Linked DNA regions of Homo sapiens. The protein of the gene in region 1 purifies or fractionates together with the protein of each later gene. This does not show direct contact. Each region holds a gene or a part of one and is shown in the gene's direction. Other genes may lie near its edges. The genes, in order: RSBN1L, GRHL1 and NKAP.

The links.
Region 2: the proteins of RSBN1L (region 1) and GRHL1 purify together in Homo sapiens (co-immunoprecipitation; one large-scale study listed by IntAct). This does not show direct contact.
Region 3: the proteins of RSBN1L (region 1) and NKAP purify together in Homo sapiens (affinity purification with mass spectrometry; one large-scale study listed by BioGRID and IntAct). This does not show direct contact.

What each region holds. Positions count from the first base shown.
Region 1 is NC_000007.14:77,699,412-77,703,062, forward strand, and holds part of RSBN1L (lysine-specific demethylase RSBN1L), read left to right. Parts: intron 1-3,651. UniProt on the Homo sapiens protein: Lysine-specific demethylase that specifically demethylates methylated lysine residues of proteins.
Region 2 is NC_000002.12:9,993,146-9,996,796, forward strand, and holds part of GRHL1 (grainyhead-like protein 1 homolog), read left to right. Parts: exon of another isoform or gene 1-61; coding exon 62-99; exon of another isoform or gene 100-2,733; coding exon 2,734-2,825; exon of another isoform or gene 2,826-3,170; coding exon 3,171-3,256; exon of another isoform or gene 3,257-3,282; intron 3,283-3,651. UniProt on the Homo sapiens protein: Transcription factor involved in epithelial development. Binds directly to the consensus DNA sequence 5'-AACCGGTT-3'.
Region 3 is NC_000023.11:119,937,226-119,940,876, reverse strand, and holds part of NKAP (NF-kappa-B-activating protein), read left to right. Parts: intron 1-2,066; coding exon 2,067-2,147; intron 2,148-3,651. UniProt on the Homo sapiens protein: Acts as a transcriptional repressor. Plays a role as a transcriptional corepressor of the Notch-mediated signaling required for T-cell development. Also involved in the TNF and IL-1 induced NF-kappa-B activation.

The sequences.
Region 1 (3,651 bases):
GAACTGCTTTATTTTTACATTGGTGACCATTCTAACAGAACGTATTTGGGTTAAATGAAAGCATGTATAAGAAAGGGCCTAGCAGGGTATTTAGTAAATGTTATTTGAGTCTGAAGCATAGTTATTAATTTTTTAACCCTATAACTAATTGAAAGATGGGTGAATGCTGATAGAGGAAGGATCATTGACAGATATGAAAGTTAAGAATGCTGAACAAGAGAATTATGAAAGTATACTAATATGGCCCCATTTAGTACCAGGGCCTGATGCCTCACAATCTCTAAGGCCATCTAATCATAGTACTGTAGCTGACTTGCGTGATAGCTTGACTCACCAAGTAAAAGTTAAATTTCTTATAAGAAGGAAAAGTGCAAAACAGTTTAGATTTTTTTTTTTTTTTTGGAAACAGAGTCTCGCTCTTGTTGGCCAGGTTGGAGTGCAGTGGCGCGATCTCGGCTCGCTGCAACCTCCGCCTCCCGGGTTCAAGCAATTCTCCTGCCTCAGCCTCCCGAGTGGCTGGAATTATAGGCACTCGCCAACACGCCTGGCTAATTTTTGTATTTTTAGTAGAGAGGGGGTTTCACCATGTTGGCCAGGCTGGTCTCAAACTCCTGACCTTGTGATCTGCCTGCCTTGGCCTCCCAAAGTGCTGAGATTACAGGCGTGAGCCACCGTGCCTGGCCAACATTTTAGATTTTTAAAACCAGAAAATAACCTGATTTTAGTGCTTACGGAGGTAATTTACTGGAGAGTTAATCAATATTCCTGTAAGACTGAATAAATTGTAGAATTGGTAAGTGTGGAAAGTAAAAGTGGACATATACCAAGGGTATCCAAAATTTAGAATTATTTTATGGCAAACCACAACAAATATTTCATTAGCTGTCAGTGTGCCTTCACTGACTCCAGTAACCAGCAAAATTTGTATAGATCTTCTAACTTTTGTTAGTACTTTTGCTTTGTATTTGTTAACTTACTTTTTTCCTTAAAATGACCCTGTGAAGTATTTCAAGACAAAACCAGAGCATTTCACTGAATTTTTGCCTTGAAAGTGTAGTTGCAGGATTTAACTCTAATGAAAATAGCAGCTTTTCTTAGAATCAAATAATTTGAGGTATATAAATGTGAGTGATGTCAAAGGGATGGGTGTCTGAAGATTTTTCTAACTACACTCTCCTCCAGTATTGTTACTGTACAATTTTAGGTTAAATTCATATTCAGAGTTTTTATCATATGACTAAATATTTGTCTCTGCTGAGGGAATAATTTACTATGATTTTATTTTCTTGTGTAACCTTTTGTTTTTCATGTCTCATTTTTTTCATTTGCTTAGTTTTCTCTGGCAGAGTCTTTCTGTACCCTCCAGTAGCTCCATAAAATGCTTCTCAGTACAATTTTCCACATGGGCAAATCTGTCAGATAAACTTACCCATTCCATTTGTTCCTGTAGACATCCCTTCTGGGGCCGGGCGCGGTGGCTCACGCCTGTAATCCCAGCACTTCGGGAGGCTGAAGCTGGCGAATCGCCTGAGCTCAGGAGTTCAACACTAGCCTGGGCAACACGGTGAAACCCCATCTCTACTAAAAATACAAAAAATTAGCCGGGTGTGGCGGCACGCACCTATAGTCTCAGCTACCTGGGAGGCTGAGGCATCGCTTGAACCCAGGAGGCGGAGGTTACAGTAAGCTGAGATGGCGTCACTGTACTCCAGCCTGGGCGACAGAGCAAGACTCTGGCTCAAAAAAAAAAAAAAAAAAACAACAACAACAACAACAACAAAAAAAAACGACATCCCTTCTGTAGCTGTCCTTACTGCTTTAGCCTGGGTTGTTTCCTCTTTAGGCCTGCTGCATAGCTGTCACCTTGGGACTTTCCTTAGTTGACATTCTGGGAATTTCTTTAACTTTTGTTGAATTTTATTTTTCCGGATCTCATGCCTTCCTTTTGGTTTCTTCCTTCATTTTGGATTTTCATTTTGGATTTCATTTTTATCCTTTTACTTGACTGGCAGTTAAGAGATTTCTGCATTGGAAATAATTTTCCCTCAAAAGTTTGAAGGTGGTGTTCCCTTATTGCCTGGTTCCCAAAGTAGATGTTAAGACGTCTGATCTCCAAAAAGTTGTCTATTCTACTATCTGGGGAATGTCAATCCTTTCACTGAATTTTATAATTTATATATTTTTTTCTTTGGTGTTTTTCTTCACATCTCACTCTTCCTTCTGAACTTTCACTGAATTTTACTTTTTTTTTTTTTTTTGAGATGGAGTCTTGCTCTGTTGCCTAGGCTGGAGTGCAGTGGCATGATCTTGGCTCACTGCAGTCTCTGCCTCCTGGGTTCAAGCAATTCTCCTGCCTCAGCCTCCCAAGTAGCTGGTATTACAGGTGTGCGCCACCACGCCCAGCTAATTTTTTGTATTTTTAGTAGAGATGGGGTTCCTCCATGTTGGCCGGGATGGTCTGGAACTCCTGGCCTCAGATGGTCTGTCTGCCTTGGCCTCCCAAAGTGCTGGGGTTATAGGCGTGAGCCACCGTGGCTGGCCTTGACTGAATTTTAAAGTTTTAGCTTTTGTTTTTTTGAGACGGTCTTGTACTGTCGCCCAGGCTGGAGTGCAATGCAGTTTTGGCTCCCTGCAACCTCTGCCTCCCAGGTTCGCATGATTCTCCTGCCTCAGCCTCCTGAGTAGCTGGGACTACAGGCGCACACCACCACACCCAGCTAATTTTTTGTATTTTTGAGTAGAGATAGGGTTTCACTGTGTTGGCCAGGCTGGTCTCCAACTCCTGACCTCATGATCCACCCGCCTTGGCCTCCCAAAGTGCTGGTATTACAGGTGTGAGCCACTGCGCCTGGAAAAGTTTAAGCCTTTAATAAGAATTTTTAAGAGCTCCTGTCCTTTGTTTCAGTATTATAGTATTTTGTTCCTTTTTCATGGGTGCAACGTTTTCTGTTTCCTCTTCAAGGATATTAATTACAGCTTCTTTGAGGTGTTCTTCTGTTCTCCCTATTATTTTTGGTTTTTCTTACTTATTTCTGTTTGTTTTGGTTGCTTTCTTTTAGTTGGAGGTTTTGTTCAGATCTTTGTGATCATGAGCAAGGTTAATGACTAATGGACTGCTGTGTTTTTAATCTTCATTTCTTTTCTCTGGGTGGTGGGCAAGAAGGCTTTCAGTTTCTTCAGATAGATGTCCTTTAATTTTCCTGTCTCTTTGTGGGTGGAATGATGGAGAGAGGAGGGGTGTCTTAGTCACTCGGGCTGCTATAATAAAATACCATAGAATGGGTGACTTAACAGAAATTAATTTTTTTATAATTCTGGTGGCTGGAAGCGTGAGGTCAGCATGCCATCATGGCCAGGTTCTGGTAAGGGCTCTTTTCCTGGTCTGTAGGTGACTGCCTTCTTCCTGTGTGCTCACATGACTTTTCCTATAATGGAAAGAAAAATCTCTTCCTTTTCTCTTTATAAAGCTACCAATTTTATTGGATTGGGACTGTGCCCTTTGACCTCATTTAATCTTAGTTACCTCCGAAAAGCCTTATTTTCAGATACAGTCACATTGGGCATTAAGGCTTCAACATATGGATTTTGGGGAGGCATGATTCAGTCCATAGTGAAGGGCTTGGCAGAGGTAATGAGTTTGTATGACAGGGT
Region 2 (3,651 bases), on another chromosome or scaffold:
TCATTTATGGCCAAACATTTTGAGCATACATTTGAAAAGCAATCTATTCCTTTGGTCTTAGGTCCTTCCCATTGCCTCTGAAGAATTGGAGGGTGAAGGGTAAGATTTATGTTTTGTTTTGTTTTGTTTTAATAATGGAAATGATTTCAAACTTGTAGAAAAACTGCAAGTACAGTACAAAGAACTCATTTTTCCCTGAGCCATCAAGGATAAGTTGCCAGCCTGATGGCCCATCACTCCTGAATATCGTGGTATATATTTCCTACCAACAAGGACATCCTCCTGTGTCACAGTCAAGATTAGAATATTAACATTGCTTCATTAGCACCAATAATGTCCTTTATAGCAAAAAAGGATCCAGTTCAGGATCACACATTGTAGTTGTTTGTCATGTTTGTTGATCTTCTTCAGTCTAGAACTAAGCCACTCCTTAACTTTTCTGACCAAATATTTTTGAAGATTACAACCAGCTGTTTTGTAGACTCTTCTTAGTTTGCGTGTGTCTGCTGCTCTCTCATGGTTAGATTCCAGGCCTGGCAGGGATGTCATAGAGGCCAGGCTGGGTTCTCCGTGTGTCCTAGCAGATGGCGCTTGATGTCAGTTTATCTGTTACTAATGGTGTTCTTTGGTCACTTGATTAAGCTGGTATCTGCCAGCTTCTCCACTGCAAAGTGGCTCCTTTTATAGTAAGTGTTGTCTGGGGAGGTGCATTGTAGCTTTGTAAATATCTCATTCCCCATCAAACTTTCAGTTTACTCGTTCATTTATTGCTATCAGTATGAACTCATAGTTTCCTGTTTTATTCAATAAGCTGTGATTCATTAGTCATTTACTTTGATGCTCAGGTTGTCCCAGAATTGGGCTCTGCCTTCCTGTGCCGGGCAGCCCCCTACTCATGCTGCCTAGTGGAGGGGGGCTGACGCTACCCCTCTTTGGGCTATCAGAACCTTCTTGATGGCTCTGGGACTTTTTCAACAAGGCAAAGATTCTTTTTGTTTTTATTTCATTTTACTTTTAGAGACAGGGTCTTGCTCTGAGGCCCATGTAGGAGTGCAGGGGTGCAGTCACAGCTCACTGCAGCCTTGAGCTTCTGGGCTTAAGTGATCCTCCTGCCTCAGACTCCTGAGTAGGTGGGACTACAGGCACATGCCACCACACCCATCTAATTATTATTATTATTATTATTATTATTATTATTATTATTATTGTAGAGATCCTGGTCTCAGGCAATCCTCCCGCCTCAGCCTCCCTCTTTCTGTTATCTGCCCTCAGAAAGGTGCATCCTGATGGAGAGAGCCAAGATTTCCATGGGAAGTTCATTCCTCAGCATCCCTCTTCCCTCATCTTCCATCCATTCCCAGGGCTTAAACCGTCATACTGGGGACATTCATGCCCCACACGTTACCCATCGTGCCTCTCTTTGAAGGCGAGGCCTGCACTGCCCCTTTGATTCTTAGTGTTTCAGGCTTGAGTCCTGCCGGCACTTTCACTAGACGGCTGCTGTGTGTTAGGAACTGAGGTGGCAGAGTCTCGGAGGCTCAGCCCCTGCTCCTGAAGTGGCCATTCTGCTCCAAATCCAGCACTCCCTCCCTTCACTTTCAGTTATCTACCTCTTCTCTTGCTTGCCGTGACACCACCTGCTGGACCCTCCATGCCAGGTGCCCCTGGTAGCCAGGCGTTCGTTCGATCTGAGTTTTTCTCTCCTCAGACTCTCCTTGGTCTGTTCTCACCTTTTGGCTTCCATGATACCACCATATTTTAAACCTGTGGAATCCTGTGCTCGGATTATACCAGCCTCCTTCCCCTGGTTTTTCTGCTTGAAGGTCCTGGGGTCCCCTCCAGTCTTGACCACACACTTTGGGTACCAACACACTTTGGGTACCACACTCAGTCTCACAGACCTTTCAACTATTCCCTCTTCTCTGCCATGTAAAATTTAATTCCTTAGAGCTGAATGATCAGGACATTCACGGTAGAGTCGGCTTCCCGAAATTTCTAGATATGGCTTCCTGTGGGCCATTCTGTTTGAGCCAGGCTGGCCCTGCATTTTCCTGCTCACACTTCCTCAGTGTTTTGAAACATCATCTCCTTTGTCACTGCCTGTACAAGGTTATCTCAGATCCTGCCTCCTCCATAGAGTGTTTCCTGAAAAGAAGCACCAGACAGCCAGGCGTGGTGGATCATGCCTATAATTCCAGCACTTTGGGAGGCCAAGGTAGGAAGATCGCTTGAGCCCAGGAATTTGAGAACATCCTGGGCAACATAGGGAGAACCCATCTCTACAAAAATAAAAAAATTAGTTGGGTGTGGTGGTGTGCGCCACTTGGGAGGCTGAGGTGGAAGGATTGCTTGGGCCTGGGCGGTTGAGGCTGCAGTGAGCCGTGATCCATGATTGCACCACTGCACTCCAGCCTGAGCAACAGAATGAGACCCTGTCTCACAAAAAAAAAAAAAAACCAAAGCGCCTCATCTTCGAGAAGGCAGCTTTATCTGATGAGAGTGCAGATACCTGCAGGGAACCTGAGTGTGGTCCCATGTCTGCCTGTAAATATCCATGAGCCCTGGAGTCAGGATCTTCCTTTAGCCTGATTTTTCATCCACAAATAAGGAAGCTGGACCAGATAAAGAATGAAAGTCATTTTAAATCTAGTTCCATGACAGGCTCTAAAACACCTTAATGTTGATGCAGCTGGTTAAGTTGAATCACTAACGGCATATTTTGGATCACTGCAGCTCTGTCTTGAAAAGGGGGCCGTACGGCACAGAAGATGACTTTGCTGTCCCTCCTTCTACCAAGCTGGCCCGGATAGAAGAACCAAAGAGAGGTGTGTTCGTTTCCATTTCTTAGTGGGAGTTTTAAATCAGAAGTGAGTTCAGAATCTATCAAAAGCATAAATGGTTCAAGCACATTTTTCCCAGTTTCACTTGCTTGGGAATTCTTCCATCAGACTGACATCTAGCTTGAGCTAGGACTTAGAGCAAAGTTCAGAGAAGCTGAAACCTGTGTTCCTTAAGACAGAATTGATATTGGCTGATGCTTGTCATCCTTGATGTGAATGTGGTTTTTATTTTAGCTGGTACCGTGGTCTGTTTTCCTCTTTTGCTCATGTGAACTGTATCCTTTTTTTCCTCTCTTTTCCCTTCCTTATTCCTGGTTGGGGATTGATTAGTGCTGCTCTACGTTCGAAAGGAGTCAGAAGAAGTCTTTGATGCCCTGATGCTCAAAACCCCATCTTTGAAGGGCTTGATGGAAGCTGTAAGTAGGATCAACTCTGTAATCCCCTGTACAAAATGAAAGGACAAGTACATAGGATTTCATTGAAACACTTTATCAGATGATCCAAATCCTTTGTCAGACCTTCTGGAATCCCTGACACCTTTCTCGAGTCGTCGTGCGTCCCACATTTTATCCTCACCCAGGGGTCTTAACTCACACAGTCACTCAGTCACACCTGTTCCACTGAAGTGAATGCATCTGTGATGGCCTATGAAATGTTTAATTTTTATATACGTGGTTAAAGGGAGATTGCCATTTAGCAAGCCACTTAGAAGCTAACAAAAGTGATTTTTAATCAAGTACAATCTTAAAAACTTCATACATAAAAACAGTGGCTCCTCAGTCTACCTTTAAAACTCCCAATCCTAGGAAAT
Region 3 (3,651 bases), on another chromosome or scaffold:
AATTTATCTTAACATTACAGATGAAACCAGGTGACAACAGGACTTCCTGCTATTTACAGCCTGGTAGGCGTTCTTCCCCCGATATCCATACATTCCAAGTACAGCTATAAATATGTTACCTTTTAAATTGTCTGTTACTTCAGGTGGGAAACCCTCTCAGTCTGACTCTGCATAGTTATAATACCTTTTCCCCTGATTAAGGAGGCAAAAACGATTTATACAAAAACTCATTGCAATTATATTTATTTTGGAAGGATTTTTAAAAACAAATGGAGTCACAAGCAGCTAAAATTTGAGAGAATGAGCCTTAGTCTTTGTTTTGTTTTGTTTTTTAGTTTATGAGGAATAACAAAAATTAAAACAGAAGAAACCATAGGCATAAAACAAAAGAAGAAACAAATTTTAGTGTCCTTCAAAGAATAGATACAAAATGCACTCCTTTTCCAAAAAGGAACTAAAAGGAAAACAGAGAGGGAACAAACCTTGTATCTCATTGAGTATAGTTTTTTTTTTTTTTTTTTTGGTTTTTTATTTTGAGATAAGAGTCTCACTCTATCACCCAGGCTGTCATGTGCAGTGGCGTGACCTTGGCTCACTGCAACCTCCACCTCCAGGGTTCAAGAGATTCTCCAGCCTCAGCCTTCTGAATAGCTGGGACTACAGGCACATGCCACCGTGTCCAGCTAATTTTTGTATTTTTTTTAGTAGAGACAGGGTTTTACCATGTTGGCCAGGCTGATCTTGAACTCCTGACCTCAGGTGATCCACCTGCCTCGGCCTCCCAAAGTGTTGGGATTACAGGCGTGAGCCACCACGCCCAGCCCCAAGTATATTTTTTGTTAAATGAAACTTTTTGACTAGGTGCAGTGGCTCATGCCTGTGATCCCAACGCTTTGGGAGGCTGAGGCAAGAGGATTGCTCGAGGCCAGGAGTTCAAGATCAGCCTGGACAACAAAGCAAGACCTCTTTTTTTTTTTTGAGACGGAGTCTCGCTCTGTCTCCCAGGTTAGAGTGCAGTGGTGCGATCTTGGCTCACTGAAACTTCCACCTCCTGGGTTTAAGCGATTCTCCTGCCTCAGCCTCCCTAGTAGCCAGGATTACAGGCATGCGCCACCACGCCTGGCTAATTTTTGTATTTTTACTAGAGACGGGGTTTCACCATGTTGGCCAGGCTGGTCTTGACCTCCTGATCTCAAGCAATCCGCCCGCCTCAGCCTCCCAAAGTGCTGGGATTACAGGCATGTGCCACCGCACCTGGCGGCAAGACCTCATCTCTACAAAAAAATAAAAAACTTTTATTTCGGGCCCGGTGCAGTGGCTCACGCCTGTAATCCCAGCAACTGAGGTGGATCTCCTGAGGTCAGGAGTTTGAGACCAGCCTGGCCAACACGATGAAACCCCATCTCTACTAAGAATACAAAAATTAGCCAGGCGTGATGGCGCATGCCTGTAATCCCGGCTACTAAGGAGGCTGAGGCAGGAGAATTACTTGAACCCAGGAGGCGGAGGTTGCAGTGAGCCAAGATCGTGCTACTGCACTCCAGCCTGGGCGACAGAGCGAGACTCCATCTAAAAAAATAAATAATAAAATAAAATAAAAACTTTTCTTTCATTTTCAGAACTTCAGTTGTTTTCTACGTCTAATGCATCATTTTTATTTTCTTCATTAATTCCTCGATTTCTGAAAACTGAAGGTTTGACCATATCAAAAGAGACTTCTCTTCACCTTTCATAAATCTGTAAACAAATGAAGTTACTTACAAATGTGAAGCTGTTTCTGTCACATATTACAGATGATGAAATGAGCAGTTAAGAGCTGTGTCATGCATTCAGCAGAATGGATGCACTTGACAGTCTCCCAGGCCATCATTTCTATAGTCTGTACCATTTGATAGTATCATCAGAACATCAGACCTTAAGTGATGAGTTTACATTTAAACCAAGTTTTTATCCATGTTTAAAATATAAAGGGAAAAAAGGCTTAACTAGACTCCTATTGAATTTGATTATATATTTAGGAAACAACTCAGCCATTGAGTTATAATTTACATGTCTTTATCTGCTAGGAGATTAAGTGAGAGAGAGAGAATTGGAGAATTGGGAGCTCCTGAAGTATGGGGACTTTCTCCAAAGAATCCTGAACCAGAGTAAGTGGTTAAAAAATATATTTTTAAAATGTTATAATATGTGTTTAAATCCTGAATCTATTGTGAAAATGTTTAAGTGAAGAACTTTAAATATATCTCACATTTTTCTTTCTTGTGATTTATGTTCTTCTACCCCTTAAGTTTTAAAAACATAGAACATATCTAAAGATTAAAACATGTTGCTAGTAGGTTTTAGCATAATCTAAAATAATTCCTGGAATATAATTTTCCTATTAATAGAAGGGTTCATTGTTAAATAATACACATTATTTTGAATTATTTTTTCTCAACTAAACTCAGTGGCAGATTGCATGCCAGATATTAACATTACAAAGAGATTTTTTTTTTTGAGATGGAGTCTTGCTCTGTCGCCCAGGCTGGAGTGCAATGGTGCGGTCTCAGCTCACTGCAACCTCCGCCTCCTGGGTTCAAGCGATTCTCCTGCCTCAGCCTCCCGAGTAGCTGGGATTACAGGTGCCTGCCACCATGCCCGGCTAATTTTTGTATTTTTAGTAGAGACGGCGGTTTCACCATGTTGGCCAGGCTGGTCTCGAGCTCCTGACCTCGTGATCCGCTTGCCTCAGCCTCCCAAAGTGCTGGGATTACAGGCGTGAGCCACTGCGCCCAGCCTACAAAGAGATTTTTTAAAACGAATATACCAGTATGGTTTTGTTAATATTCCTATATCCAATACTATCTGCAGACTTAATGCTTTTTCTTTTTGCTTATTTCTTTTCTCTTTGATGCTACTCATAAGTTTCTTCTTCCCTCTCTGTTTCTGTGCCAACTTTAGGTTGAGTTGAGACAATGTGCTTGACAGGTAAACCTGTAATTTGTGATTGGATAATAAAGCATTATTATCTGAAACTTGTTCTTACAGATACCTTTAGAAAATGCTTGAAGAGGCCAGGTGCGGTGGCTCACGCCTGTAATCACAGCACTTTGGGAGGCCAAGGCAGGTGGATTCCTTGAGCCCGGGAGTTCAAGACCAGCCTGGGCAAATAACAAGACTATTTAAAAGAAAAAAAAAAGAAAACACTTGAAGAACCTGAATGTATTGAATTAGAGTTGGAAGGAACCCTAAAAATAGTTTTCTTTCTTCTTTTTTTTTTTTTTTTTTTTGAGACAGAGTCTTACTCTGTCACTCAAGCTGGAGTGCAGTGGTGCGATCTTGGCTCACCATAACCTCCGCCTCCCAGGTTCAAGTGATTCTCCTGCCTCAGCCTCCCGAGTAGCTGGGATTACAGGTGCATGCCACCATGCCTGGCTAATTTTTGTATTTTTAGTAGAGATGGGGTTTCACCATGTTGGTCAGGCTGGTCTTGAACTCCTGACCTCATGATCCGCCCACCTCGGCCTCCCAAAGTGCTGGGATTACAGGCGTGAGCCACTGCACCCAGCCAAAATAATTTTCTAGATAATATTTAAATTACTCCAAGTATGATCTTCAGAGGAAAAGATTATATGATGTGGAAACTCCTTTTCTAAACTATTGTAGAATTTG